4 linked regions of the Homo sapiens genome follow. The protein of the gene in region 3 purifies or fractionates together with the protein of the main gene of each other region. This does not show direct contact. Each region holds a gene or a part of one and is shown on either strand. Other genes may lie near its edges.

Region 1 (7,674 bases), on a different chromosome or scaffold from region 3:
CATAAAAATCAATTTGGGTAATGTTTTAATAGTAATGATATATAGTCAATATATTGATTTGATTTTTTAAAACACTACTCTCCACTACTGATTGTATTCAACAAATTCAGGGTTTAGGTAAGCAGAAAGGAGACTGGGAGATAACAGAAGAGAATATTTCAAACTGTAGGGCTGACTATGATACTAAATATTAAAATGTCTGATTAGGCCGGGCACGGTGGCTCACGCCTGTAATCCCAGCACTTTGGGAGGCTGAGGCAGGCGGGTCACAAGGTGAGGAAATCAAGACCATCCTGGCTAACATGGTGAAACCCCATCTATACTAAAAATACAAAAAATTAGCCGGGCATGGTGGCGGGTGCCTGTAGTCCCAGCTACTCGGGAGGCTAAGGCAGGAGAATGGCGTGAACCAGGGAGGCAGAGCTTGCAGTGAGCCGAGATGGCGCCACTGTACTCCAGCCTGGGCAACAGAGAGAGACTCCATCTCAAAAAAATAAATAAATAAATAAATAAAATAAAACGTCTTATTAAATCAGGATGCTCTAAAATATAGACACTGGTCTTATACATTGACACCATTATACTTCAACCCAATTATTATAGAACCAGCATTCTATAAAGCTTCTAGCAAGTGCTGTGATGCCTAGTGAGAATGAAGATACCTATAATTCTAGTTGTTTACAATGCATGCAATAAACATTAGTGGCTTTTAAGAAAGAAATTCAAGTGAGTAAAGAGAAAAAAGCTGCCAGAACTCGATTCTTCTCTACCAAATACATTTTTTAAAAATAGTAAAAATTCTTCAAAGGAAAAAATTCTTCATGCTTTAAAATCAAAATGACTATTTTAGACATAAAAATTTTAAACTAGTACTAAAAGACGATAACTGAATTGCATTCAATATCAAATGGGGATTTTTATCCTACTGCTAAGTACTTATTAAACTTTTACACATAATAATGTAATATAATATGCTATAGTGCATAGGTAATTAAGACAATAGTTAAAATATATATGTATTTAATAATATCCACCTAAAACTTTGTAAATGGTTATTTAATAGGAGGAAATGTAAACTTTAGTTCACATATCCATTACTGTGGTCATAAACCACACTTGAAAAAGATCTAATAATAAACTTAGTTTAATACAAAGTGGCATTCTTCAATGAGCCAAAATGTCAGACTACTCCCAAGTGGTTAGTTTCTGACATATAAAAAACGTCAAAATATCTTAAAAGCAGGCAAACTTGAGGACTACAGACACAGTAAAATAACTGACAGTTAAATGGTGACTCACAGTCACCAAGTATATATTATGTGCTGTATACAGTGATCCCTCAGTATCTGTAGGAAATTGGTTCTAGGATCCCCTTGGATATAAAAACCTGAGGATGATCAAGTCTCTACATAAATAGTGGAGGATTTGCAAATAACACACAAACATCTTCTTGTATACTTTAAATCACTCTAGATTTCCTATAACACCTAATAACAATGTAAATGCTATGTAAATAGGTGTTACACTGTATTTTAAAATGCGTATTATTTATTTTTTTTTTTTTTTACTTGTTTTGAAACAAATTTTCGATCTGTGGTTGGTTGAATTCACAGATGCAGAACCTACATATACTAAGGACTGATTATATTCTGTTTAAAGAGTCAGTAAACAGGGAATGTATCTAAGATTTTCATCCATGATGATTTATAAAAAGATAGCAAAGGGAATAAGGAGAAAACATACTAAACTATTCTTAATAACTTAATCTCCTAGGATTCCAGCCAACTTATGTTTTACTATTTAGCTCTGATAACTTATTTTGGGGATATCAGGCAAATCAACTTTACAGAACCATAAAATCTCAAAGGTCACCTTGGCCAACCATTATTTACTACATGAATTGTTTCTAATGTTCCTAATTGTTCTAATTGTTCCTACAACTCATCAAAGTTTGAATTTCCTTATTCATGCAAATCACGCAAGTTTCAATCTCATCATTCATAAAGGCAGTAGCTTAGCACACAATACAATCTGATAAGTATAAAGCATTTCAAGATACAAACTGACAAATAATAATAAAAAGTTATACATCACTATTAGAAAGTCAAGCCACTCTTTCAAGTGTATGATCAATAAAGTAAATACTTAAACAGGGAGTATCAGGAATGTACTTGTTCTCTAGGTAACAACAAAGAACAGGTTATAATCCCGCATTTAAAGATCTAATAGGGAAATATGGGAATATATTATTAAAACAAATGTACTGATTAGTAAACTGCACTTATTTGTTATAGGTGGTCTGCAACTCAGTAAAATAGAACTCAAATACTTTTAGTTAAGTAAAGTCATGGTCTCCAGAAGATGCCTTACAATGGTGATGATTCGCTCACTCTCACTCCCCAGCCAAAGGAGGAATTAAAATTCTTCTGGCTGAAGTATGGATGATATTGGCAAGAAAGTAAATTGGAAATACAAAAAAAAAATTTGGGAATATATGAGATCTCATACCTTTTCAGAGTTTCAGTATACTTAAAGTCAAGTTAGTAGATGGCTCATTTTTGTTTTACAAGAACTGTTATTTTCAGTTCACAATAGAGACTAGACCTTAGTTTGACCTTGGAATATACCCCGTGTTTGCACAAAATCTAGCAATGATGCTAAGAGACATAAATCTGGGTATTTTGTTTGGTTACCTGTTGTCTTCGTTTTTCTTCTTCAAGAGCAGCTTTGGCTTCTGCTTCTTTTATCTGTTTATACACATACAAAAGTCAATTTACAATTTAGTCATCACATTTTATATGGAATTTTAACATCTACCCATCCAGGTTCTATTAACCCATATCAACTTTTAGGAGCTTGAAATCATTTAAAGAAATGTAAATGCTATACTGAGACAAGGTTTTACCAAGGCACTATCTAATAAATTGAAGGTGGTCATGGATGGAGTGTTATACCTTATATGAGCATCTCAGCTTAACAAGTAAAATCGGTATTACATCGTAATTCAAAGAGTTAAAACACTGTAACAGCAAATTTTAAAACTGCCTTTTTTCCTCTTGAGTTGCTGTATTAAGAATCTAGAATTAATTATTAAATACTGCTGTTTCTCTAGAGTTAAATTTATCTTAAATGTGCTATCATGGAAGGGAATCCTTACTTTCAAACAAAATCAAGAGGTCACTGATTGGGTTGATGGAGGGGAAGAGTAACACTAGAGATAACCCAAGCAGCAAAGAATCTCAAAATCTTATAACGGGCATAGAAGATGAAAAGCCTTCATATACACTAGGCAATGAAAATCCCAATCTGCCATTCAAAATAAGCCTATAAAACTAGGCTTTTATTATAAAAGCAAAAAAATGAGATTTCAAGTTGTTTTTAATAAGTACATAAATGCACAAAATAAGAAGGGAAAGGCCACTAGTCTTTAAAATGATATTTAACGAGACATTACCTCAGATGCTTTCCGCTTCATTTCCTTGCACGTTGTGTCACATTCTATTGAAACCTGATTTTCACGTACTTTGTTGCACTGCAATTCCTACAAACAACCCGATTTTCAAATTTTAAATGATTTTTCCCTCAAAGACCTGTCTGCCATAAAAAAGCAAAGTTCATCTGATAGCTTAAGGTTATAAGTATTATTTGATGTCTTAATATTTAATGATGATATAGTTGCAAGCATTAAATATCTGCTTCAAATAGTGATTACTTGCTTATTTTCTCTTAACTTAAAAAAGAGAATACCATAAAATTTTTAAAAATCAACTTAATAATTACTATGTGCCACTATTGGACTTAGCTCCCATGTTGTTTTTATTCTTTACTTTTCTTTATTGTTTGTTATTCTTGCAAAGTGTCCAGGGAATACAATGTTCTACAAATGTGCTGTCCAACAGAGCTTCCTGGTATGTGCGTGGGATGGAATGTTGTAAATCTGCATTAGTCCACAGAGTAGCACTAGCCACATATGGCTACTGAGCACTTGAAATGTGGGTAGTGAAAATGAGGAACCAAATTTTTAATACTGTTTTATGCTAATTCATTACAATTTGCATTTAAATATCCACATGTGACTAGTGGCTACCATCTCAGATAGTGCAGCTCTAGAGAGTTTTCTGGGGAGCTACAAATTTTTCTCTCGACTGTTAAACTTTTTTTAAGTTTAGATGAAAATTGTTCTAAAGCTTATGTTGGCACTTCACTACCTCCTTAATGAAAGAACACTGATCTACTGTTTTTGATGTCTTGACATCAAAACTATGACCAATTTCTGTACTACGACAGAATAAAACGATGACCTACTGAGTTGAAGAGTGGTCTTTATATTAGTTTTAGACTGCCTTTTGTAGTACATCTATCTTTTATTCATTCATTTATTGCTGCCAATGTCACTTTTACTCTCAGTATATTTAATTTGTATCAGTTTCTCCTGTCTCACCAGACCCTCAGACTCTAGTTTTTTGTTCAAATCTACCACAGCTTAGACATGAGATTACCAAATCCTGAGTAAAGTGCATTTAGTAAAAGCATTTTATGGCATGGAATTTTATTACTTGGAGGGTTTTTTTTTTTTTATTCCTTAGTTCTTCATTTTTGGCTTGATTTAGTGATAAACATAGTCTTGTCCTCCAAAGACAGTCCAGACATAAGAAAATTAACATGAACAAACACTGGAGACAAAAATAAGTATCGTGTGTTTATAGACATTAAGTCCATCAGCTTAGAAGAGGATTTTATCTTTTCTCATTCAGAGGATACTTACAGAGTGCCTATAACATGCTAAACACCATGACAGGGAAATGGAACACAGTAAGAAATAAACAGTATAATCATCTGTTAAGTGCTAAATAAATAACAATAGTAATTGCAGCTACTATTTATTACACATAGCATTGTTTTAAATGCTATGTAAGCACTACCTCTTTTATAGTAATGGCAGCTACTATTTATTAAACATAGCATTGTTTTAAATGCTATGTAAGCACTACCTCTTTTATTCCTTTCAATAAATCTCTATAAACTCTATTTTACAGATGAGGAAACAAGGTTACAGATACCTAGAATCACAAAGCTCTACATTATGAACCCAGTACAAAGAAAGTCAAGAGGAAGGAACAGCTAAGCCTTCCCAAGGGAACCTGGGGAAGGAAAACCTTCTCAAACAAGGAAGTGCTTCCAATAAGTATTAGCAGGATTCTAGTAAGCAGAGAGCTAAAGGAAAAACATATTGTATTTTACACAGGAAAAAAATATATATACATTGCCACAGCCTAAGCTAAGCGAGGGTACAATATATGTATTAGGGCACTTAAGTAACAGATTCACAGAGATGATTGCTAGATGACGAGACTGAACAAGCAGGCAAATGTCTTATCATAGCCTCCCTGGTATGCCGAGTCTGCATATACCTACACATACACATTTTTTATACAATGCACTTTTTCCATAAGTGATGAAGAGCCATTGAAGAATTTAGAACAGGGAAGTGGTGTGACTAGAGACAAGGAAATGGGTCACGAAGTTGTGGCCAAAGCCCAGAAAAGAGTTGTTCCAAAGTACTAACGGGTGGGTGGCATATGGCACTTGGACAAGACATGAGATTTCAGAGAAAACTTAAGAGACATCTCACATTAAAAATGGCTTGACCAAGTATTTATTTTCAGGTACAGGGGGTCAATTTAAATATCTAAAACTTAAAGATTCCACTCCCTAAAAGGCCAAGTGTATAAATTTAAATTCAGAAGTTCCCTATCCTAGGAAAACATATCAGAAACTATGAACATAAATGAAAGGCAAAGGACCTATAAAAGATCCTCAATACATATCCATCACATGGATGAATAAAAGCGAATTTCAAGAGACAAAAAAGACAAGCTTTAGGGAATGACAATAGGAATATGAAGGAAAAAAAAGGAGTTACGACTATAACTGAGATAGGGTAAATCAGAGGTCAAAAAAGTTGGTTTCAAAGGAGTAAGCACTGCCAACAGGGAAGATCAAGGAAACAGAGAATTGAGAAAAAGACTATTAGGACAGTATATTTTCCTTCATAAGTTTTGTTGAGCAGTATATAGTTTGTTTCCATCAGGCTTTGTAATCATTAGTTTTTGCCCATTTACTCCTCTGTTACCATCATTTTATCTTAAAATTAGTTCTTTCCAAGTTTACATGTTATTTTACTTTATAAGGCTATTCATATGAGGTCTTTTTAAGGCAATATTTTCAAAGGACAATACTGATGGTAAAAAGAATTTCATAAATAACAGCAACAAAGTTAATCTCAAGCCATTTCTTAAGCAATGAAACATTCTACCCGTTACATTGTGTTCCTTGTTCAAAGACCTCAAATCTAAAGCACATTGACCAAAACAGGGCATTGAATTTGGTTCCAACATAAAAAATAATTTTCCTTTTACTGTTAAATTGCAGAAAATTAAATCGCCAAAGCTTATGTTTAAAATAAATGTTTAAAGAACTAGTAGGCTCATTTCAATAATAAAAAAGTTCTATGAAGTAAAACCTCAAAATTAAAAGGCAAAAAAAAAAAAAAAAGCCAAACAACTACCAAAACACATAGATCAAAAAACAAGAACAAGAAAACCACACAAAAACAACTTATATAGAAAAGTATTTTCAATAACTTAAAATATTTACCTTTTTTATTCTTTTACAAGGACATCTAAGTTTTACCTTCTGGTTGCAGTTAAAGGGACATTCACCAGGATGACACATCTCTTTGCATCTATGACCACAAGGAAGCTAAAATAAAATCAAAATAAAGCAATTACATACTTACATCTTGATCATACTCTAGTTTCCCCCATACCCCAACAATTTTAAGAGAGTCCATCACACAAAGGGTCAATCAATCCTAGCTAATGGGATAATTTGTAAACTATTTTTCTTTTAGATATAAATTATTTTAATTACACTTATATAATTTAATTATATATATATAATTTAATTATATTTAATTATTCTCCCCAGCTCCATTCCAACAGTACATCTTACAGCCACCCTTGTAGCTAGTTATAGCCATATAACTGAGTTCTGGTCAATGGAATGTAAGCAAGTACAGGTGATTCATGCTTCAGATCATTTCAAGAGTATACTTCCATGTTCTTCTCTTCCCCATGTCCTGGATATGATGAAAGCTGGAGCGGTAATGGAAACCATATGCCAAAGAGAGCAGAGCTGCCAGCTGACTTGGATTCATGGGTGAACACATGGAATACAATGACACACCTACCTTCCCTGTACTGCACTGTGGGAAAAAAAACAAAAAAGAAAATGCCCTGTCCTTATACGGTGTTATAACTGTTTAGCCTTTTATTCTACAACATTTACCCTTTCTACTAATATTAAAAAAATATTATTTAGGTAGCCAAAACAACTCAGTAATTGCCATGATGTTTATGCTCCGTGTCTTTAATTGTTTACTGTCTTCCTATCCTAGTCAAGCATTAAGATGAAATGTTCATGGTCTCTCTGTCTATTCAAATCTTATCCACACTTTAAGACATGACTTAAATCACCATAATGGCCTGATATAAATCTGCCTATACATAAATACATAATAGTAGTTAAGAAATCTGTTTCTAAACTGTTGTAACATTGCTTGTGGTGTCTTGAAATTTTGCAAAAAAACAATTTTTTTTAGGCACTTCATAT
Region 2 (7,674 bases), on a different chromosome or scaffold from region 3:
GCCTCAAGTGATCCACCCGCCTCGGCCTCCCAAAGTGCTGGGATTACAGGCATGAACTACCGCACCCGGACCCCAAGTCTGGATTTTTTTTAAAAATGAGACTTTGAAAAGGCAGAGTCTCCAATTGTCTCCACTCTTCTCTTAGTTTGGCTTGGGTGATTGGAGGCACTGTGGGCCAGTGGTCCCTGCCTGGGGTGCAGGGCACAGGGGAGCCTAAGTGACTGGCAGAGCCTGGGGGAGAGCAGAGCAGGCGACAGAGCCCAGAGGGTAAGCTGGAGGGCAGAGGGCGGACACAGGGGAGGGCAGACAGAACAGAAGCGGACAAAAGGAAGGGCCATGCCTCCCCCTTCCCAGGCCCACTCACCAAGGACGATGAGCTCTGCGTAGGCCTCATTGTTCCCCTGGAGGTCCTGGGCTGAGACCACGGAGCAGTAATACACACCACTGTCCCCCCACGCCGTCTGGTCAAAGGTCAGGTCAGCATCTGAGTCGGGATGAAAAGGCGTGAGGGCACCTTGGAGGCTGGGGCACCTAACCCCTGGAGGGCCAAAGACCCCTTCCCAGCACACCCAGGAGGGGGCAAGCAGTGGGCTGGGCAGGCTGCAGATGATCAAATGCATATGCAAAGATTCCTACCAAGGGCACACGGCCTTTTACACCCCGTTCTAAACACCTGGACTACTGCAAGAAGTCTGTGAGGCAGGACCATTATCACTTCTGTTTTGTGGATGACATTTCGGGTCTGGAAAAGCTGCACAGCTCTTCAGTATAGAGCAGTAATGGTGCCCTCGGAGCCTGAGGTTGTTTTTTTTTTTCTTTCTTTAGAGACAGGGTCTCACTCTGTGGCCCTGGCTGGAGTGCAGTGGTGTAATTATAGCCCACTGCAACTTCAACCTCCTGGACTCAAGCAATCCTCCCACCTGAGTAGTTAGGACTACAGGCACTCCACCATGCCCAGCTTTTTTTTTTTTTTGTTTGAATCGGAGTTTCACTCTTGTTGCCCAGGCTGGCATGCAATGGTGCGAACTAATCTCGGCTCACTACAATCTTCGCCTCCCAGATTCAAGCAATTCTCCTGCCTCAGCCTCCCATGTAGCTGGGATTATAGGCACCTGCCACCACACCTGGCTAATTTTTGCATTTTTAGTAGAGATGGAGTTTCGCCATGTTGACCAAGTTGGTTTTGAACTCCAGACCTCAGGTGATCCACCCCCACCTCAGCCTCCCAAAGTGCTGGGATTACAGGCGTGAACCACCACACCCAGCAGTCTGTGCTTCTCAACTTACAGCCATCTCTGAACCACCTCTCAGAGCCAAAGTCAGAACTCCCCTGATGTGAACTGCCACCCACAGGGCCTAGTGTAGACCCCAGGGATGGGTGTGGAGATAAACAGGCCAGATTCTAGGTACCAGGAGATGCCCAGGCACCCATAAGGAGTGGGTGTGTCTATGTGGGAGAGAGAGACTTACCCTCCCAGTGCCTTGGTTCCTCCCCCTCCCCTTCCATCCCCACATTCCAGGTCAGGCCCAGGGCTTGGGGACGCTCTTGTCTGAAGCAGCTGCAGGCAAGGAGCCTGTTAACTCTACCATCCATCAAAGTGTTTTGGCACATCCTGTTTCCTCTCTGCTTCTCAGGCACTAATTAAATACCTTCAGCCTTTCACCAGGGTGGGACCAGGGCACCTACCAGGCAACTCTGCCTTAAGCCACTGGGGACAGAAGTAGGCTACATTGGGCATCTCGGGCAGGAAATGCCCTCAGCTTCCCGGCCTCTTTCCTCCTAGCCTGACCTGCCTGCCACCTTCCCAAGGACGCGCTGCCCTCCTGCATGACAGCTCTGTGACGGCAGCAACCACGCGTGCTGCAGTCCACAGCACCTGGCACCCCCAGGAATGAAAGAACCCTTGCTTTCTTCATAAGGAAGGCCTCATGTCTACAGAAAAATCCTCCTTGCAACAGTGTCTGGCTACAGCATTCCAGACGCCTTCCCTAAGGTCCCATAGTCCCATGGTCCCCAAGGCCCTTGGCACGACGTGGTCTCTAGCTACCGTGCCAGCCTCACCCCTGCCATCGCCTTGGTTCTAGATTTGCACTGTCCCCCTGTGGGCTGGGCTTCTCCCACGGCTCCCCCACCCAACTGCTGAAGTCTTATCTCCCAGCTTAGGGGCCGACCATCCTTTGCCTGGTGAAAATGTGGGCTCCGTGAGGCAGAGCCCTGTCTGTCTCAGCCACTGCTGGGTCCCCAGTGCCTGACACAATACCTGGCAAGGAGCAGAAATGAACACCCTCTTGGCCGGACATGGTGGCTCACACCTGTAATCCTAACACTTTGGGAGGCTGAGGCAGGTGGATCACTTGAGGTCAGGAGTTCCAGACCAGCCCGGCCAACATGGTAAAACCCCATCTCTACCAAAAATGTAAAAAATTAGCTAGGCATGGTGGCACGCACCTGTAGTCCCAGCTACCCTGGAGGCTGAGGCAGGAGAATTGCTTGAACTCAGGAGGCAGAGATTGCAGTGAGCTGAGATTGCACCACTGCACTCTAGCCTGGGCAGTAGAGTGAGACTCCATCTCAAAAAAAAAAGAAAAAAAAGGAAACGAACCCCCTCTCCTCATGCTAAAGTCCCTTAGCTTTTGTCATCTGTCTCATCATTCTGGGCACATGGCTGGATTCAAAGACACATTTCTTTCTTTCTTTCATTCATTCATTCATTCATTCATTCATTCATCCTTCAACAATAATTACTGAGTACCACCTATGTTCTAGGCAGTATTTGAGACACCTGGGATACCACAGCAACAGTTCTCAAACTGCAGCCTCTAGACCCTGGGGTTCCCCAAGACGTTTTCAGGAGATCCTGAGGTCAAAGTTATTTTCCCAACAATACTAACTGTGGAGTTTTCCAGAGGCTACGTGACATACAATAGATATCACAACAGACTGAAGCAGCTCTGAGAAGCCAGGCTCTTCTATCCAGCCAGGCTTCGGAGACTTGCAAAAAAATAAAACCATGCCACCTTCTCATTCACAATGTTTTGTCTGATTTCAGAAAATGATTATTTTTTTCATAAAAGGTATTTTATTTATGTTAATCTATAATGACTTTATTGTCATTTAAACTATTTTGTAAACTTTTCTCATTCTGCTGCCTATGAAAACAAACTCTTTGAGCTCTTAATTTTTTTTTTTTTTTTGAGATGGAGTCTCGCTCTGTTGCCCAGGCTGGAGTGCAGTGGCACGATCTTGGCTCACTGCAGCCTCTGCCTCCTGGGTTCAAGCGATTCTCCTGCCTCAGCCTCTTGAGTAGCTGGGATTATAGGCGCCTGCCAACATAACTGGCTAATTTTTGTATTTTTAGTAGAGACAGGTTTTTCACTGTGTTGGCCAGGCAGGTCTGGAACTCCTGACCTCAAGTGATCTGCCCGCCTGGGCCTCCCAAAGTGCTGGGATTCCAGGCATGAGCCACCTCGCTAGGCCTGAGCTCTTAATTAACCTCAAAATCAAGAATATAAAAGAGGCCTAAGCCCGGAACCTTTGAGTTATAAATCCTTGCCCTTGCCCTTCTAGAGTTCAGATTCTAACTAGGAAAGAAAGACAAATATAAAATGTTAACTATGTCACATATCAGACAAAGATAAGCTGTATGGAGAAAACGAATCAGGGACAGCAGAGAGTGCCAGGCGTGGAGTGGGGGCTGTGCCATTTTAAACAAGGAGGCCAGGGAAGGCTTCCGGATATGGTGACCTTCAGAGCAGATGTGAAGGGGTTGAGGACACGACTTACCCTAATGATCAGGCATCTAAGCCACTGTTTTTTTGTTGTTGGTGTTGTTTTTTAATTTTGAGATGGGATCTTGCTTTGTTGTCCAGGTTGATCTTGAACTCCAGGGCTCAAGTGATCCACCTGCCTCAGCCTCCCAAAGTGCTGGGATTACAGGCATGAGCCACCGCCCCTAGCCCCCACCGTTTATTGAGCTCTTACTATGTGCTGGGCCCCTCTACACACATTCTTTCATTGAATCCTCATAGAATTCCAAACTAGGTTCTCCTAAATCCCCAGGTTTGCCACAATGCCCTCTTCGTCCATCATTTTTCCACCTGTATCTTTTTTGAGAGGGCCTAGCTTGGTCGCCCAGGCTGGAGTGCAGTGGTGCGATCATGGGTCACTGCAGCTTCGAACTCCTAGGCTCAAGCAATCTTCCCATCTCCAGAGTAGCAGGGTGTGCCATCATGCCCCGCTAAATTTATTTTTTTGTAGTCTCTGGGTCTCACTGTGTTGCCCAGGCTGGTCTCCCAGCTCCTGTCCTCAAGCAATCCTCCTGCCTCGGCCTCCTGAAGTGCTGGGATTACAGGCATGAGCCACCAGTGTCTTCAGATCAGACCCTGACCGTGCCTCTTCAACACTGGAGCTCAAGAGCTGGTCCCTGCTATAAACAAAAGAGGTGGACAGGAACCGCCTGCCATGGCAAACAGATCATATAGGCCAGGGGTTGAAATCTGGCATCTTGTAGGCCGAGGCTGGACCTCACTGTGTTTTGTTTGACCTGTCTGACATTTTCAAAACTCACAAAAAATATAGTTTTCCGGCTTCTTTTGATCCATCCTAAGGTCTGGGCACACCTTCTTCCTGCAGGGCGTACCCTGTTCCTGGTCTTGGGCTGGCCGTGATCTCATCCGGGCTGAGCACTGCTTTCATTGTTTTAGGTCGGGGAGAAGATGCCAGGTCTCCAGTGGGAACAGCAGCCAGGCCTCCTCCACATCTCCAACCTCTGGTTCCTTCTTTATACACCGCAAAGGTGACCTTCATGATTTCAGAGGTCCCATGGGCTCTCTGCTGCAGTGCAGCTGGAGGTGGGGGCACTTGGACCCCAAGGAGCCCGAGGAGGTGGAACAGGGCCTCCTGTCCAGGTGCTGGTCCATCACCCAAAGCATGGAAGGACAAAGCAGGGAATGAGCCACCGGACCGGAGGGATGCCTGGAGTGGACAGCCTTCTACCTTATCCAGGACTATTTTCACTTTTGAAACCAGGATAGGCCGGGCATGGTGGCTCACATCTGTAATCCCAGAACTTTGGGAGGCCAAGGCAGGCAGATCACCTGAGGTCAGGAGTTTGAGACCAGCCTGGCCAACATGGCGAAATCCCATCTCTACCAAAAAGATACAAAAATTAGCCAGGTGTGGTGGTGTGCACCTGTAATCCCAGCTACTCAGGAGGCTGAGGCGGGAGAATCACTTGAACTTGCGAGGCAGAGGTTGCAGTGAGCTGAGATTGCACCACTGCACTCCAGCCTGGGCAACAGAAAAAAAACAACAACAACAGAAAAACCCCAGCACAGTGGGTGACCCTAGGAACACCACGGGGAGTCCACTTTTCCCCATCCTCAAAGCTGAAACAGAGGAAGCTCCTATGGCTATGGGATTTCCTGAAAGGACACACACAATGGATGTTTACACTCAGGGCCTTGATCAAACACAGGCCCAGGTGGGGGTGGTTTGAAAGACCCAGGCCTGTGAGGCCCCTGGAGCATGCAGGGCCCCTTCCCCGAGACAGAGCCTGGGGGGTCATCCTGGACTTTTGCGTCCAGCAGAGGAAGCACCCTCAGTATTTGGCTTGTCCTGGCAGAAGCTTAGCAGTCACGCCTGGTCCAGGCAGGCACAATCCCTGGGTTAGAGAGGAGGGGGCCTAAGCAGCCCTGTGACCTCAATAACAGTAGGATGCTCATGGCTGAGCTGCCCACAGAAATTCAGGGCAAGCAAGCCTGGTGCCTCCTCTGAAACAGGACTGACATAGGCTCAGCCCCTGGAACCCTGCTTCCCATCGATCCTCTAGCAGAATGTGCTCCAGTTCCTGGCTTCTTGGGGTCTGCAAAGGGATGCTCCCTTCCCCGCTCTGCCCCATGCCCAACTTTAAATTCTTGTTTAAGACAGTGAACACACACTAAGACATGAGGTACGTGAGCCTTCATCCCTGGCACCCTGCCCCTCCCCTTCCTCTCTGCCTTCTAGGTTCTGTAAGGCCCAGGCCCAGGCCCTCCTCAAATCATATTCACAGCCCAAGTCATTCCATGTAGCACATCACCCAGTGCTATTTTCTTTTTTCTTTTTTTTTTAAGACGGAGTCTCACTGTTTCCCAGGCTAGAGTGCAGTGGCGCAATCTTGGCGCACCGCAACCTTCGCCTCCCAGGTTCAAGCGATTCTCCTGCCTCAGCCTCCCGAGTAGCTGGGATTACAGGCGCCCACCACCACGCCCGGCTAAATTTTGTATTTTTAGTAGAGATGGGATTTCACCATGTTGGCCAGGCTGGTCTCGATCTCCTGACCTCAGGTGATCCACCCACCTCGGCCTCCCAAAGTGCTGGGATTACAGGTGTGAGCCACTGCGCCCAGCCTATTTTCTTTTCATTTCAAGACAGGGTCTCACTCTGTCACCCAGGCTGGAATGCAGTGGCACGATCATGACTCACTGAAGCCTTGACCTCTCAAGCCCAAGCAATCCTCCCACCTCAGCCTCCTGAGCAGCCGGGACCACAGGCACATGCCACCATGCCCAGCTAATTTTTAAATTTTTAAAATTTTTGTAGACATGGGGTCTCATTTTGTTGTCCAGGCTGGTCTCAAACTCCTAGGCTCAAGTGATCCTCCTGCCTTGGCCTCCCAAAGTGCTGAAATTTACAGGCATGAGCCAATGCACCCAGCCTGGTGTTATTTTCTTTGCAACACTTAGTACTCTCTGACATTCTTATACCTTGACGGAGTCTTTTTTTTTTTTTTTTTTTTTGAGACAGAGTCTCACTCTGTCGCCCAGACTGCAGTACAGTGGTGCGATCTCAGCTCACTGCAACCTCTGCCTCCTGGGTTCAAGCGATTCTCATGCCTCAGCCTCCTGAGTAGCTGGGATTACAGGCATGTGCCACCATGCCTGGCTAATCTTTGTATTTTTAGTAGAGACGGGGTTTCACCATGTTGGCCAGGCTGGTCTGGAACTCCTGACCTCAGGTGATCCACCCACCTTGGCCTCCCAAAGTGCTGAGATTACAGACGTGAGCCACCGTGCCCAGACTTTGAAATTCTCATACTCTTTCTTTATCTGCTTATTTACTGCCAGTCTCACTCCACCAGAATGTCATCTCCTTGACGACAGAAACTTCAGCCATCCCAATCACCTCTATCCCCAGCACCAACGACACATAGTCGATGCTTGATAAATACCAAATGAATGAATGAATGACTGCCCCTTACTTAGTCCCAACAGGCACATCCTATCAGGAGGCAGCATTACAGTTAAGAACAAGGGGCCGGGCGCGGTGGCTCACGCCTGTAATCCCAGCACTTTGGGAGGCCGAGGCGGGCGGATCACGAGGTCAGGAGATCGAGACCATCCCGGCTAAAACGGTGAAACCCCGTCTCTACTAAAAATACAAAAAATTAGCCGGGCGTAGTGGCGGGCGCCTGTAGTCCCAGCTACTTGGGAGGCTGAGGCAGGAGAATGGCGTGAACCCGGGAGGCGGAGCTTGCAGTGAGCCGAGATCCCGCCACTGCACTCCAGCCTGGGCGACAGAGCGAGACTCCGTCTCAAAAAAAAAGAACAAGGTTCTCAGGGCTGCCTGGGTTCAAACCCCAGCTCCAGACTTTGACTTCCTATGCACCCATTTGAACAAGGTAACCTCTCTGT
Region 3 (8,546 bases):
GTAGGAGGCTGGGCTGGAGACAGGGGAAATGGAAATCCCAAAGGGGAATTCCTGTCCCCCAATGCTAGCTATGCCCTCTACCCCCACTGTCCTGCACCAGGGCCAGAACCTCAGCCCACGGACTTCTACCATCCTCCTTTCTCCAGCCCCAGGGTACCAGAGGGCCTGTGGGAAATCCACCCACACTCCTCCAGGCCATCCCCAGGATTCCGGGGACTCACCAGCCTTGATCAGAGGATCCCCGTTCCTGTATCCTCCAGGCACCGCCTCCTAGCCTGGAGACCAAGCAGAACCCTCTGCCTCCCTCCCCTTACTTCCTCACCCCCTCCAGCTCTTCCTCTCCTTTCCTCTCACTGAGGTCTCATCACCCTTCCCCTTTCCTGCCCACCCCCAACTCCCGCTCGGGGACACAAAGATCCCATTGATTTCTGTCCCAACAGCACCTGCTAAGACTGAGCTCTGCCCAGCTCCCAATACGGAGTGGTGAGGATTGAGGACAGCAGAGCCCTATGGATCCCAAAGGCCACACTCACCCTCCATATCCCACCTCCTCCTCGGGGACTCTACCAACCCTTGCTTTGGGGAGCAGTGCTTTTCCCTAGGAAAGGGGGTGTACAGCCGGACAACAGGCCAATGCCCCCGACTCTTCTCCCTGCACAATGCTCCTGCTCCTGTCCCTCTATTTCTACCTAACTCCCCTGCCCAATGGCGGGAGGCCCCAGACACTGCAGGCATGGTGGGGGCCAGGAACCTCGTTGGCTGGAGCATGTTTCCTGGTGATCCTGAGGCAGCGGGTGAGTGAGAACCTGGCGGGGGTCCCTATCACTGGGGCTGGCTGCTGGAGGCTGGGCTGGAGTGGGCACCATGTTGACGCCAAACATTTGCATATGCACTGGGCAGTGGCAACGAGGATGAAACATACACGCATGCACACACAATGCTGGGAGCAAACTGTGGACTAGGGACAAGCATCTCGAGCGCCATGAATACTAGATACCCTGTGACTATGGGTGAATGGAGCCCTGACAGACAGGCAGTGTACAAGACACGCCCACCCCCTCACATACCTGACTGTGGGAGGCGTGCATGGCAGAGCAGCCCAAGCTCACACCCCTCTCCCGGAGAGGGTGCTTGTGTTTGTGCTCACACGTAGGTGACAGATGGCGCCAGCAGTCTCCAAATGGGGAGCAGCGGTTGGGATAGATGGGGGTGGGGGTGTCATGAGAAGGGATGGCATCCACAGTGGGACCCTGTCCTTGGCAGCTAAGCGAGAGCTGGGAGCTAGACATGGAGATGAGTAGCTCTCTGGGTGTGGGTGTGCAGGTGTGCATGTGAGTGTAGTGACAGGGACAGTGAGTGAGAGAGGGAGTGTGCAGGAAACTGTGTCCCCCAGCAGTGCGTGTGCGTGTGTGCGTGTGCATGTGTGCATGCACCCGTGCTGGGGCAGCAGTGAGGGTGAGTTATGCACATAAGAGTGAACCAGTGATTCCCAGTGTAAGAGCCAGAGCTGGGCATGGGAGCCGCTAGAACAGGAGACAGAGGGGGACTGGACCCCAGGAGGGCTGGAGGGCAGAATGAAAGAGGGATGTGTGAGGGAGTCTGTGAGGCAGGCATGTGAGAGACACACAGAGATCCAGAAGAGACACTGGCACCCAGTGTCCTGAAGACCGGGTCTCTCCAGCCTGCCCACCAGGCCAGCTCCCCAGGAGGCCACCCGGGGTCCTTCCCTAGATGGAGCCCCCCAAACCTCCCCTCCCTATCTCCTTCGTTTGGTGGGAAGAATCCAGTAGCCTCAGAAGAAAAAGGGAGCAAGAGAAAAGTGAGAGTCAGTTGGTCTGGCCTTGGGATGGTGCGTGCGTTCCCTGCAAGCCAGCCAGCTCCAGGACACCTGGGCCCATGCCTAGGAACCCCCACCCCAACTCCCAGACCTGGGCACTGCAGCAGCAGCAAAACCAAGAAGAGGAGCAGCAGGCGCCCCAGGGTAAGCCCCTATGAGCGGCCACTGCTCCATGGCTGGGAAGCCAGAGGGAGACGCCAGGCTTGGGGAAACACGAGGCCAGCCTCTGGTGGTGGAATGAAGGGAAGCCCTGTTGAGGATGCCCCTGTACACCACTGCCACCACTCCTCCCCACTCCCCAGCCTCCGGCCATCCAAGGCCAGGCAGCCCAGCTGGCAGAACTCACCACAGAGAAGTTGCTGGCGGAGCAGTGATGCCCACTGAAGTTGCAGCTCTTAAGCATGTCGGCGAGCTGGTGGCCAGTGCGGTTGAGGATGTCTACCATGTCAGGCTCTGGGTAGCGCAGGCCAGCCGCACGGTGCCCATCCCGGTCTTTGGGGGGCAGCCCTGTCAGATTGGCCAGGTGGAAGATGTCGGCATCGCTGAGTGCCGAATGCCGGAAGCGGTTGATATTGCAGAGGGTGACAGCCGGGAAGCCCGCCACTGGGGCTGGGGCAGCGGGGTCCATTGCCACCAGGTGAGGCCGGGTCAGGTAGCCCCGGGCCAGGCCAGCCGCCTGGTACAGGAAGGCAGCCAGCGAGGTGAGTAGGGCCAGTGCCCACAGGGTTCTGCGCAGTCCGTGGGGGCCTGGGCCACAGGCCCGGCCCAGTCCATGCAGGGTGCTGGTGCTGGCAAAGGTGGCCAGGTCTCGGGGGGCTGCTCCAGGGGCAACAGCCCCGAGGAGGCTCTGCTCATCCCCTGCCTCCTTCTCCTTGGGTTTCGCATCCTCCTCAGCAAATTTGATTTTGCACACAATCTCGATCGGCATCTGTCCCCGGCTGCTGGGACTGGCCAGAGCCTCCCTGCCCTGTCCCTCCCTAGCCAGCAGCCCTGGTGCCCTCCCGAGTGGCAGTGGTGGCAGCGGCTGCTCTTCTAAACTCAGGGCAAGCGGGAAGAGGACAGGGACAGGGTGGGGGCCCGAGGTGGGGGAGTCACTCCCACTCCCAGCAGCTCCGCAGCCCTGGTGCTGCCTCTGCCGCTGCTGCCTCTGCTGCCGCTTGTCTCTCTCCTCGATCGTCTCCTTGTGGCTTCCCTTATCAGCACCAGCACAGCTGTCAGCCCCTGCGTGTGTCCCTGCGAGCGAGCGAGTGAGCGAGGGAGCGAGCGCTGCTCCGCCACGCCGCGCAGCCCCAGCCGCTCCGCTCAGCATGTGCTCCGGAGCCCTCCCCACGCTTAATAATTCAGGACATGTCAACAGCGTTTCACCGGCAGCACGGGCGTCAGGAGCCAGGCCAGGGGAGGGGGCAGTCCCCAGCCCAGGACAGAGATCCCAAGACTGGGGCTATCCCCCAAACTCCTGCTGCACCCTAGCCGCTCACTGGGTCCCCAGATCTCCCCACTTCCTGGCCACCCAGGGAAGGGTGCCGTGCCCAGGGTCCTCAGCTCATTCTTTGCCACTTTCCTGGCCCACACCCCATGAAGGGTCAGCCAACTCTATCCCCCCACCTCCTGGCCTCTGAGACTCCTGACTCCAGCACCCAGCCACCACCTGATCCCACTACCCGACTCACAGCAGCTTCCAGAAACTCCTTGAGAGAGCCACTTGTTTGAATGACGGAGGGAGGGGGGCAGAGGAGGGCAGGCTAGACAGACCAGGGGACAACTGTGACTTCAAGATTCTCAGCTTCCCTGGAGCTTTGCTCCAGACTTCAACACCCACCATGCCCCTGCCCCCTCTGGGAGGCTGGCTGCCCTCACCCTCATTTTGCCCCCAACCCCAATCTCAGTCATTCATATGTCTGGGACAGACAGCACCCTGGCCAGCTTGCATATCTGTGGCCACTTTGCTTCCCCAAATGTTCCCCAAATCCCTTGCCACAACCAGGCTTCGGGGGAGGGCTGTTGGGTAAGCAAGCCAGGGAGCAAAGGGGAGGTGTGCTTCCGGGGTGCTCTATATGTAGGGGGACAGGGCATGCAATGGAGGGAGAGGAAGAGCCCCAGTGGGGGCGTGGAAGGGAGCAGGAAGATGTGCTGGGCGTCAATGGGAGCGAATGCTCTCCTAAAGAAAGGGGTTTGAGGGGTGCCTGGCAGAGTGGGGCAGGAGAGCCCTAAGGGGTCTGCTGTGTTCTCGTGGAGGGGAACAGGCATGTGGGCCATCATCATAGGTGGGGGTGGGAGCCTCAGTTGACTGGCCAGGAGGGGATGCATCCATGCCCCCAGGGTGGGGGTGGCAAGAATCAGTGCTTGTGCTCTGGGGCCCCATCCGACAGCATGTGCCCTCACGGGGGAGGAAGCCCTTGTCCCCGGGAGGAAAGGGGGGCTGATTAATCGGGGCGCTAATGAGCAGCAGGGAGAGGAAGCGTGGACGGGCGGGGGGAGGTGGCTCCATCGATCCAAGCCGCAGAACCAGCAGCTGAGAAAAAAAGTGAGAAAGGAATCGATCTGAGGGAAACGGCAGCTGCTGGGGATTAGAGCCCGAGGTCCACCCGCTGCCCAACGGCCACCCCGCCCCCTGCGTCAGGCCTGGCCCCGCAGCCTCTGCCTGGCCCCAGGGGAGGGGCCTAGGGATGGCTCCCTTAGCAGCTGGAAGCCACTTTGCCCACCCTGGCTGCAAGGCCAGGTCAGGCCCCATCAGGGTCACCCCAGCATGGAGCCTGCCCACACACCCAGCCCTGACCATGCGTGGTGCCCTGCTTAGGTTGTCCCTAGCCTTTAGGCAAAGTGGCTTCCCCAGGGACCCCACAGCTGGGCTTCCCCACAAGCCTCCAATGAGTCTGGGTCAGCTGGTTCCCCAAGCTGGGAAGATAAGACCCCTGGGGCAGGGTGATGCATCTGGCTGGGACATAGTGTCCCAGAAGGGAAAGTGGGATTGGCATTGGACAAAGCCGCTGAGTTAGCACTGAAAGTGGCCAAGTGACCACAGACAGCCCCCTCTCTCTGTCCCATGCCCAGGCAGCCGCCTCCTATGCTCTCCCCTCCCTGGTAGACTTCCAAACCTTTCCAGAACTCCCCCCACTGTTCCTCCCCATCCTTCTCTCTCTTCTCCTTTCTCCTAATATTGATTTTTCTTTACTGTTTTTTTTAAAAGGTGATTTAATTGCTTTTTAAGGTTACTTTAGTCTGGGGCTTTGCCAAGAAAGCGGGAAACTGCCCCCCAAACTCTCCGCAGCACTCGTTGCTACCCTGGAGTGCATACATATCTCTAAATTCACCCACCATCTATTGAGATCTTGGGGTCACACTTCCCCGACAACATACTGGCCTCCATCATGAGACAAATCACATCCTCTTTCCTCCTGAGGGTAGGCAGGATGCCTTCAACCTCTATAAGGAAAGAAATCGGGTGGTAACTGGGTATAAGGGGCATGCGGGGGGTGCTGTGAGGGGAGCTCCAGGCTGCCAGGAAGTGGAGCAGCAATTAGCTGCATGCACACCCCCACCACTGCCCCACAGCCAGCTGTCTCCAATTGTCCCCAAGCCCCCAGCCTCCAGTCTCCCAGATCTCCAGGAATCTGGTGATGTTCTGAGGGAGTGCCCCCATACTTCCAGCTCATCTCTTGACCTTTCCCTCCGCTTCTCACCAGGCCCTCTGGCCCCCTCCCTGTCTCTCTATACCCCCTTTGCCTCTGGCCCCGTCCCCTCTCTCCTCCCTCTCCCCGCTTCCCTGCCTGCCTCCCTCTCTGCCCGGCTGCAGTTGGGTGATAATCTCCCTCATTTAGCCTCCCGGCTGCTTCCCCGGCTCATTGCCCAGCTGGTCCCTGGGGCCCGGCCCAGCTTCTTCCCCACCCCCACCCCGGCCCTGCGCCCAAGCTCCCCCACCCCTCCCTGCTTCCCCCACCCACTCCCGGGGGACCAGCTGCCCCTTGCAGTGAGGCATCAGGGACAAGTGTGGCTGGCCAGGCCCTGAGCTGGGTGTGAGCAAAGGGGGCAGGGCTGTTAGGGACCCTGGACTGGGAGTGCCGGGGAGCTGGGTGTTGCGGGGTCAGAATGTGAAGCCTCATCCCAGGTTCCTTTGCTCTCTGGTTGTCCCCATTCCTCAGATTTATTCCCAGTCCAATTCACCTGCCTCCGCCCCCCAGGGGATGAGCTTCCTGACAGTGAGAATGAGTGGTAGATGGACTGGGACGAGGTTTGGTAACAGGGCAGAATGTGGGGGGGGGGCAGTGCATGCAGTCGGGGGGAGAGACAGGGAGAGCAGTGGGTTTCTGGCTCAAGGTTCCTGGGAGGAGGCATGGAGATTTTGTTTGGGCAAAGTGCCCCAAAGGCAGACCCAGAGACCTCCCAGGATCCAACCTGGGGGGTTCCAAGGGTGCTTTCTCAAAGCACAGGAACCCCCAAGCTGATGCCCAGATTCCTTGCCTGGCTGGCCCCATTCAAAAATGCTGTGACCCCCTGAACTCCTAGACAGCATTCTCCAAAAGATGCCCAGCCTCCCTCCCCCTGCACCCAGAGGACACCCTCCCCAGCCCAGACACCTGGCCCTGGTGCGGACCAAGTGATGAGCCAGTGTGGGACAGATGTGGGCGGTAAGGGACAAGGATGGGGGGGCTGGGGCTGGGCTGGTCCAGGCCTGGCTGGTGAGCACACAGCGGTGACAAACGGGCTGTGCAGGGGCCGAGGGGCGGGGGGCGGACGGCGGCTGATTTATCTGGGTTATTTATGCCGCGGACGAGGCAGGAGAAGCGGTTAATGAGAGTCCCAGAGAAGGGGGGTGGGGAGTCCCGAACGTGATCTGAGGCGACTGAAGAGGGTTAGCGTCCCACCGCCAGGCCCTGCCCCCACTGTCCGCCAGTACTCCTTGCACCCCCACCCCATCTTTCTAGGGCCAACCCAGCCCAGCACCTTCTCCCGAGTTTCATACCAACACTTCCCATCTCCTTTCGGGTACTCCCAAGCCAAGGCAACGGGTCCCTGGGACTATAAGGACACCAGGTCCAAGATGGGATGGGGGCATCAGGAGGAAGTGGGGAAGACACCAGGAAAGGGAGGGCAGGAAGATGAAAAATCCTGGCTGGCCAGAAACTAACAAAGTCTGTGGGGCCTGCGGGGGAGGGCTGGGATGGACGCAGCCATCGTGGGAGTGGGTGTGCAGCCGACAACCTCGGAGCTGAGGCTGCAGAGGGCAAAGGGCATGGGGTACAGAGGCGGTGTCAGCCAGTAGCCACAGCGGGGGCCTGAGTGGCAGAGACAGGCTGGCCGGGAGGGGGTGCTGGTCAGAGAGCGGAGAGAGCTGAGGAAGGAGGGGGAGAGGGCTTTGCAGCAGCGAAAGCTGCTGGGAGCAGATAAGGCGGCACAGCAGCAGGAGGGATTAGAGCTCCGAGGGGCATGTGGGGAGCGGTGTGGGAATTGGGGGGTGGGGCAGGGAGGAGAAGGTTGAGGGCAAGACACTAGGGCCAAGGAGATAAGTGGGAAAAGTGAGGGCTGTGAAGACGGCAGGGTTTCATCAGGGGCCAAGAGGTGGTCATCGACGGGGAGAGGAGAGAAGGAATTCCTGATCCTTCTCTCCTCTGTCCTAGGAGAGGGGGACTTTTCTGCCATTGACAGAGCCCCCGCCCCCCACACCCCATGCATGTCAGGGGCAGCAGAGGGACGCACTACCGAGGATCGAGAACGGGCGGATTTGGGGGTGGGGGCAGTGGCAGGGGCCAACCCTAGCAGCTGAGCTGAAGGCTAGACTGAGAACACACAGCACCCCCTTGAGGTGGCCAGTGGAGCACAAGGGTGCCGCAGCGATCAGCGCTGGCACCGAGACCTTGTAGTGCCCAGGCTGTGGCAAAGATCAATTTCAGAGGGGGCTTCTTCATGGGGAGGGGTGTGGGCTTGGAAGGAGGGCAGATGGCTTCCCAGAGATCACCCCTTGAACTCAGACACCCCTCACCACCCCCTGCCCTCCTGCTCTCTGAGCCTCCCAGGATGTACTTGGGGTGTGTGAGGTCCCCCACTCCCTCCACACCAGAGCCCAGGGCAGTTCAGAGGTGGCCATGGCGGCAGAGGGGAGCCTCAGGGAAGGAAGGGGAGCAGGAGGGGCTGGGGAAGGGGAGCGGGGGTGGCAGGCGGGGCCGGGTAATTGCATGTTTGCCAGTTCTCCCGTCTCTGCACACGAGGGAGCGTGTGTCAGTGGGTGTAGCTTCGCCTCAAAGAGTATGTGTCTGTTGGCAGAGGTGTCAGTGTGTCTGTCTCAGGGGTCTGGGCTCTCCTTGGCCCCCACCCACCCCTTTCCACCCCCTTTGTGTTTTGGGGAGTGCAGCTCTGGGCACACCCAGCTGTGCTCCGTGCGGATGCAGCAGATGTGGTGGGGCCCCAGCTGTGCCTGCTTCCCAGAGAGGGGGAGGGGGCTGCAATCTGCTCCCCCGATAATGGCTGCTAAGTGCCAGGGGGAGGGGATTGAGATGGAGGTGGGACTGGGCCCCCTGGCAGCCTGGCCTAGGGGACTGGAGGGAGATGAGGGCTCTGCCCCCACCCCACCCTGTCCTGGCCAGCCTCCCCCAAGTCTGTGTTCTTGGCTCAGCCTTTCCCCCTCGGCTGGCTCCTGAAGCCCATCCAAATTTCTCTCCACACTCGGTCCCTGTCCCCGGCTCTCCTCCCCTGTCGCCCTATCCAGCTTGGTGCC
Region 4 (7,674 bases), on a different chromosome or scaffold from region 3:
CCAGCTGATCTGACAGGAGGTGGGGCTCAGACAGTAATGCTTGCCCACTGCTCACCTTCCACTGTGTGGCCCAGTTCCTACCAGGCCACAAACTGGTACCATTCTGCAGTCTGGGGGTTAGGGACCCCTGCTTTGGGCAACAGACCACTTGCAGGAAGACCAAAGATGGAAGAGGATATTTTTAGCTCCATAATGTCTGCCTAGCTCACCACTGTATTCCCAGAGTCTAGTGTAATGCCTGGCCCAAAGCAGGAATTCAAAAAATGTTTACTGAATGAATCAATGAATAAGCAAAGACTGAGTATGGATTGTGCAGTAGGCTGTGTTACAGCCATGCTAGTGTACAGGTGGAGCAGCCTAGCATACGTGGGTTGTGCTTTTTTGTTTGCAAAGATGGTGTTACTAGCCCAGCAAAGCTGAATTGTTTAATTGAGTTAAATGTCAGTCAGTGCTGTATTACTCAGAAGCTTTGACTTCAGAACAAAGCTTTATTCCTTTCCCCTGTTGTCTATACAGAACTCAGTGTCTCCTAAAAGCAATCCAATAATAGAGTAGTAAATTTAAGAAGTATGATAAATCTCTACGGCTCCATTTTTAAAATTAGTCTTCCCAAATTATAGCACTCAACCCTGAGGAAACTATAGCAAAAATACCACCCTATAAGAAAATCACTCTTAAGATTAGAATGGGACATTTGATTTGTGCTTGATGGCAGGACAATGGGCTTTTCCTTTTGTTTTCTTTTTAAGAATTTCATTAAGATTGTTATTATGTGCAATATATTTTTAATATGACAAAATATTGAGTTACTATTTCAGGATAGTGGGATGATTATCCTCATATGATTTTCATACTTCTTTTTTCTACTATTCTATATTTAAATTTTTTTCTGTATAAATTATAGAAACATAAACTTCAGTAAAAAATTTATAAAAGCAAAATATGACTGGGTGCAATGGCTCACACCTGTAATCCTAGCACTTTGGGAGGCCGAGGTTGGCGGATTGCCTGAGCTCAGGAGTTCGAGACCACCCCGGGCAACACGGTGAAACCTCGTCTCTACTAAAATACAAAAATTTAGCCGGGCATGGTGGCACATGCCTGTAGTCCCAGCTACTTGGGAGGCTGAGGCAGGAGAATCGCTTGAACCTGGGAGGCGAGATCACACCACTGCACTCCAGCCTGGGCGACAAAGTGAGACTCCATCTCAAAAAAAAAAAAAAAAAATGCCACCTAGTCATAGTTATTGTATCCTCCATGTTCCCATTGCATTTTTGCATTTCTAGTATAGCACTTTCATTTTAATGCTTTATGTACCAAGGTCTGTCTTACCCATATCCTGTACTTATATACTGAGACATGACTTGTAAATTCAAGGTCACTGGAAGTCATGGGAAAGGTGAGTGTCCAGCTTGCCTTCTAGCTTTGCAAAGGGAAGTGCTATTCATCCACTATGCTTTAGGCTCTTTGGGAACAGAGATTTTATCTCATACCCCTAACTCTTAGCACAGTGCTTTACATGTGAAAAGAAATTGTTGTAATAAATATTAATAGATGTACCTAAAGAAGCTGAGAAACAATAGATGCAACACTTTTCTTCTAACACTAACAAACTTATAAGTTTGATTTGTTCTGCTGCATAGTCCAAAATGATTTAATTCATTTTCTAGTGCTCTGCAGATCTCTTCCATTATATTAAAGTTTAACTCCTTAAGTCATCCATTCAGTCCTTAAACAAACATTCATTGAAAATTTACTATGTGTCATATGCATCGTTAGCTGCTGGAGCTACAAAGACAGATAAGACAGTTTTGCCCTGGAGATGCTCATTATATGGGTGGGAGGCACTTATAAACAAACACTGGTAGTACAGCTTGTTAGTTCAATGATTGAGATATGCACATAAAACAATGAAGCTGGCCAAAAAATCTATTTTTGTATTTTGGGGTTTACAGGAGAAGTCTCCCAGAGGAGGAGGCCCCTGAGCTGAGTGTCAAAGAGCTGGCAATGAATTAGTCAGGCAAAGCATATTCCTGACAGAAGTGCAATGTGAATAAAGGGACAAAGGCAAGAATAGCACAGTGCACCACAGAGTTCAGCATTGCTGGAGGGTAAAGCTGTGGCAGGGAGTGGTGAGCGATGAGGCTGGAGGGGAGGGCAAGAAGCAGGTCATGAGTGCATTGCTGGCTGCCTTACCAGCTTAGCCTCTCTCCCGTAGGCAGCGGGGAGCTGCTGAAGGGTTTTAAGCAGTGACATTACTGGAGATTATTTTAGTGGCACTAGAGAGAACGAATTTGAGGGAGACAAAAATGTGAAAAAGTGTAACTTCTTAGGAGGCATTTGCATAAATGAGTAATAGACTTGTGTTTATATTTAATAATCATAGCTAACATCTACTTAGTACTTACATGACAGGTAGTAAGTAAGCATAATGCGATAGTCTTAATATTTCACACAATCTTATGAGTAAATATTAGTATTATTTTCATTTTACAGCTAATGAAACAGACATAAACAGTTAAGTAATTTGCCCAGGGCCAGTATCAACCCAGGCATTCTAGTAAGTCTTATGTTCTTTTTTTGAGACAGGGTCTCATTCTGTTGCCACTGGAGTTCAGTGGCATGATCTTGGCTTACTGCAACCTCCCTGCCTCAGCCTCCTGAGTAACTGGAATTACAGGTGTGCACCATTACTGCCCGGCTAATTTTTGTATTTTTAGTAGAGACGGGGTTTCACTGTGTTGGCCAGGCTGGTCTCTAACTCCTGACCTCAAATGATCCACCTGTCTCGGCCTCCCAAAGTGCTCGGATTACAGGAGTGAGCTACCACGCCTGGCCAAATCTTATGTTCTTAATCACTATCCTGTTCGTTTAATTTCTGTTTCCTGTATTAGAGTGAAGCTCTATAGAGACAAGGACTATGTTGATGATGTTCTCCACTGTGCCAACACAACTATTTGTTGAATAAAATCAGTGAATAACCTAAGTGGAACAAATAGTGGATTAAATTATGTACAGATTTAAGAAATCGTCATGCACTGCTTAACTATGGAGACACTCTCTGAGAAATTCATTGCTAGGCAATTTCATGATTGTGTGAACATCATAGAATGTAGTCACACAAAACCTAGAGGATATAGTGTACTACACACATAGGCTATATGTTATAATCTATTGCTCCTAGGCTACAAACCTGTAGAGCATGTTACTGTGCCAAATACTGTAGGTAATTGTAACACAATGGTAAGTATTTGCGTATCTAAACATAGTAAAGGTAATGTGTTGCCTTAGGACGATGTTAGGTGTTATGACTGCTAGGACATCACTAGGTGACAGGAATTTTCCAGCTCCAATGTAATCTTATGGGATCACCATCATACATGCAGTCCATCATTGACCAAAATGACATGACTGCAGTTGGATGCAATATTGGCATCCAATTATTTGGCCAGCTTTGGTGATTGTTATGGACTGAATGTTTGTCTTCCCACAAAATTCATATGTTGAAGCCCTAACGACACCCAGAGAGGCCTCTAAGGAAGTATAGTAGTTAAGATTAAATGATGGCATAAGGGTGGGCCCTAATCCAACAGGATTGATGTCTTTCTAAGAAGAGAGGACCAGAGCCTCTTGCTGTCTGTGGACAGGCACTGAGGAAAGGCCATGGAGAGAAGGCACCCACATGCAAGCCAGGAAGAACGTCCTCACCAGAAACTGAGTTGGCCAAAACCTTGATCTTGGATGTCAAAGCCTTGAATTGCGAGAAAATAAATTTCTGTTGTTTAGGTCACCAGTCTATGCTATTTTCTAATGACAGCCTGTGCAGACGACAATGATTAATAGGATGAGGTGAATGCAAAGGAAAGCTTTCTAGTCTGGGAGACTAAAGGGACAAGTGGTGCCACTTACTGGGGACAGAGGCCCATGAAGAGGAAGAGGAGAGATTTGCTGGGATCAAGGAACAACATTAATTATTCCGTACTTAGGGTTCACCTCACTCAAACATAGAAATATAGAAGTTAGGTATTTAAAACCATTTATTCAATAAATGGTTATACATCCCCTAGCCATGGCGGTCACTATACTTGTCCTGAGAATACAAAATAAGTAAGATTCATTCTCTGTCCTCAAGGAACTTACAGTCCAGTGGTGAGAAATATTGTTCCCTTTTGTAAACCTCACACTCTAGTGTGAAAGACCATTTTCCTCTTCCCCACTTCTAAAGACTTGCAACTCATAAGAAGTAAAAAGATAAAATCCCATATCATCACCTGTAACTGCAGAGTTGTTTAAGATTGGACAAGAGAAGGTATATAGAAATGTTTTATCAAGTGCAATATGCATGTTAGCAATTACTGTAATTATAAAGCTACATTACTAACCTGCAGAAACTGGAGGTGAATCAGCCATGGGCAGCAATCAGAGGTGAAAAGGCTACCTTTGAACCCTGTGGGTGGCAGGAATTCCAGGATGGAGGAAGGAATAAGACAGGTGTAGCAGGGAAAGAACAGGCTTTCGGGTCCTACAGATGTAGTTCACATCACAGTTCAGTCAGTTATTAGTTATGGAAAGTTGTACAAGTCATGTTATTGATCCGAGCTTTAGTTTCTTCATCTGTAAAATGTAGTTAATGACATCTACCCAGGAGGGTTGTTCTGAGTATGTAAAGGGCCTGGCATGGTGCCTGGAAGAACTGTTGGTGCTCAATTAATGGTAACTGTGGCTCCTATTAATATCGTCATTTTCCTCTTCTACCTTCGAAGGGATTTGTTGGTGGTTACGTTACTTGAGAAGCAAGGAAGTAAGGAAAATGGAAGAGCTATTAAAGACCAGCTTTAAAAATTATTTTTTTCTTATTTATTTATTTATTTTGAGACAGAGTCTTTCTCTGTCACCCAGGCTGGAGTACAGTGGTGCGATCTCAGCTCACTGCAACCTCCGCCTCCTGTCTCAGCAATTCTCCTGTCTCAGCCTCCCAATTAGCTGGGATTACAGGTGTGTGCCACCACACCTGGCTAATTTTTGTATTTTTAGTAGAGATGGGGTTTCACCATGTTGGCCAAGCTGGTCACGAACTCCTGACCTCAGGTGATCCACCCACCTCGCCCTCCCAAAATGCTGGGATTACAGGCGTGAGCCACTGCGCCCAGCCAAAAACGTTATTTTTAAAGGTAAAGGAAAGCAGTTCAACCCAGCTTTCACCTCCTAACCTATGGTGCAAATGTATAACTCCTAAAGAAAATGACCACTATGTTATATGGCTTGCAGCCTGAGAACATCCACCTTGTTCATTATGTCTTATATTCTATCTTAAGTAGATCTACCAAACACTGTTAATAAGGGGTCTCTGAAGGCAATGCTTCTCAAACTTTAATGTTACATAGGAGCCACCTGGCAGCTTGCTAAAATGCAGATTTTCATTCAGTGGATTTAGGGTGAGGCATAAAATTCTGCATTTCTAATAAGTTCCCAGGTGAGACTCATGCTGCTGTTTCACGGACCTTACTTTGAGGAAGTAGCAAGGCTATGAAAGGAAGTGGAAATATCTTCCTTGGTATAGTATTCTCTGTAATGGCTTGCTTCTCTTTAGTGCTCTACCTAAATACAAAGTAGCTATTAATAGAACACTAAAGGAGCTTTTTTCGACCAGGTTTAGAAATTCTGCACAGGGATTCATTTCAGATCAATATCAACTTTTTGGAACAGCTTACTATTTACAAGGCAGTGTGTAAGGTGCTGGGGATATAAGAGTTGATATGACAATTCCTGCTTCGAAAGACTGCTCATTATGCCCTGTATATTGCTAACCTCCTGAGGACAGTCTTCCTGTCTCCCTTGTTGCCTAAAACTGTATAGATGTTTAAAAAATACTAAATGAGGCCAAGTGCAGTGGCTCATGCCTGTAATCTCAGCACTTTGGGAGGCCAAGGCAGGTGGATCACCTGAGGTCGGGAGTTCGAGACCAGCTTGGCCAACATGGTGAAACCCTGTCTCTACTAAAAATACAAAAATTAGCCAGGCGTGTTGGTGCACTCCTGTAATCACAGCTACTTGGGAGGCTGAGGCAGAAGAATCACTTGAACCCAGGAGACAGAGTTTGTAGTGAGCCAAGATGGCGCCACTGCATTCCAGCCTGGGCGACAGAGTGAAACTCTGTCTCAAACAAACAAACAAACAAACCTAAACAAATGAATGAATGAGTTCACAGGAGTTTCATTTAAAACATCTTCTGCCAGCACATGACAATGAGACACTATCTTAACTGCTCTGTATCTTAACTATCAGTTTTAAGAGGTGACTGAGTTAAAATGAGGCCATTAGGGTGGGCTCTAATCCAATCTGACTGGTGTCCTTGTTAGAAGAGAAAATTTGGACACACAAGGAGACACCAGGGATGCATGCATACAGAGGAAATACCATGTCAGGACACAGTTAGAAGGTGGTGACTGCAAGCCAAGGAGAGACGCCTCAGAAGGAACCAAACCTGCCAGACACCTTGATCTTGGACTGCTAGCCCCCAGATCTTTGAGGAAATAAATTTCTGTGGTTTATGCCACCCAATGCCCAGATCTAAGACCCTACTTCTGTAAGATATACAAAATGTAAGCATAATTCTAAGAGTGGATAGATGAACCTCAAGTTGCAGTGGGAACTATGAATGCAAGGATTAAGGCGAGATGGACTGAACAGGGTGAGACAGCAACCGAAAATGGACTAAAATAGCTGCCATATATACATTTCTCTCCCTTCTCATCATACCAACACAAAGTCTAGGGCTGTTCTCTCAAATCTGAGACTGAAAGTAGCTTTTAGACCTTTTTCCCCCCTTCCAGGCTACATTTTAATATTTAATATGATTTCAAAAATTGTGGCAGGAAAAAGACCCCAGATTTGTTTGTATTCAAAGTTCTAAAGATTATTTATGATGTTAAAGTAGTGAGATTGAATTTTCCCTTCCCTCCCTCCCTCCCTCCTTCCCTTCCTCTCTCTCTCTTTCTTTCTTTTTTGAGACAGGGTCTTGCTCTGTTACCCAGGCTAGAGTTCAGTGGCACAGTCATAGCTCACTGCAGCCTCGGGCTCAAATTATCATGACATTAAATTTTTGACAAAAAATTTATACAAAATGCAGTTAAATGAGAGTACTGCTAGCCATTAGGAAGCTATATCTGAAGGCTGAATCTGAAGTCAAGGGATTGATTTTTTTGGTTTTTGTTTTTAATAAACATTCCAACTCATATCAGATGAATGCCTCCTTCAAAGGAGTCATTCTGGGAAGTTCTACACTTATTCTAATTATGTCCCTGTTTTCAAATTATGATGTCTGGTGTTGCTTTCAGGGTTTGTGAGATAGTCTTTTGAATGCTCTCAGTGTTGACTCTTGAAAGTAGATTTGATTTTAAAAAACAATCAAGGGTTCTGGGCCAAATCTGGTGAACTAGGGGGGCGGTCAAACTGTGTAATGCCAAGAGGGGTGACTCTAATGTATCCAGGCTGATTTTTCTTGAGTGAATTTGTAGTCACCAGAAGGCACTTTCTGAAGACAAACTCAGACATGAAGTAAACATGTTATAAGCATGACATCAAGCTTGAGTTTGGGGAGGAGAGTTGGAAGATGGTGACTGCGCTGAAGGAAACCCCACTCATTTGGGTATGCAAGTTTTCTAGGATCTCCTC

The links.
Region 1: the proteins of ASIC4 (region 3) and NFXL1 purify together in Homo sapiens (co-immunoprecipitation; 2 studies listed by BioGRID and IntAct, with this or other methods). This does not show direct contact.
Region 2: the proteins of ASIC4 (region 3) and LSR purify together in Homo sapiens (co-immunoprecipitation; 3 studies listed by BioGRID and IntAct, with this or other methods). This does not show direct contact.
Region 4: the proteins of ASIC4 (region 3) and CNNM1 purify together in Homo sapiens (affinity purification with mass spectrometry; 2 studies listed by BioGRID and IntAct, with this or other methods). This does not show direct contact.

What each region holds. Positions count from the first base shown.
Region 1 is NC_000004.12:47,848,402-47,856,075, forward strand, and holds part of NFXL1 (NF-X1-type zinc finger protein NFXL1), read right to left. Parts: intron 6,763-7,674; coding exon 6,658-6,762; intron 3,542-6,657; coding exon 3,455-3,541; intron 2,748-3,454; coding exon 2,694-2,747; intron 1-2,693.
Region 2 is NC_000019.10:35,251,755-35,259,428, reverse strand, and holds part of LSR (lipolysis-stimulated lipoprotein receptor isoform 2 precursor), read right to left. Parts: intron 485-7,674; coding exon 365-484; intron 359-364; exon of another isoform or gene 1-358. UniProt on the Homo sapiens protein: Probable role in the clearance of triglyceride-rich lipoprotein from blood. Binds chylomicrons, LDL and VLDL in presence of free fatty acids and allows their subsequent uptake in the cells.
Region 3 is NC_000002.12:219,508,944-219,517,489, reverse strand, and holds the start of ASIC4 (acid-sensing ion channel 4), read right to left. Parts: upstream 2,766-8,546; coding exon 2,184-2,765; intron 795-2,183; exon of another isoform or gene 404-794; intron 286-403; exon of another isoform or gene 222-285; intron 1-221. UniProt on the Homo sapiens protein: Does not exhibit measurable stand-alone pH-gated sodium channel activity but may form pH-gated heterotrimeric sodium channels. Its activity could also depend on alternative gating mechanisms.
Region 4 is NC_000010.11:99,331,849-99,339,522, reverse strand, and holds part of CNNM1 (metal transporter CNNM1), read right to left. Parts: intron 1-7,674. UniProt on the Homo sapiens protein: Probable metal transporter.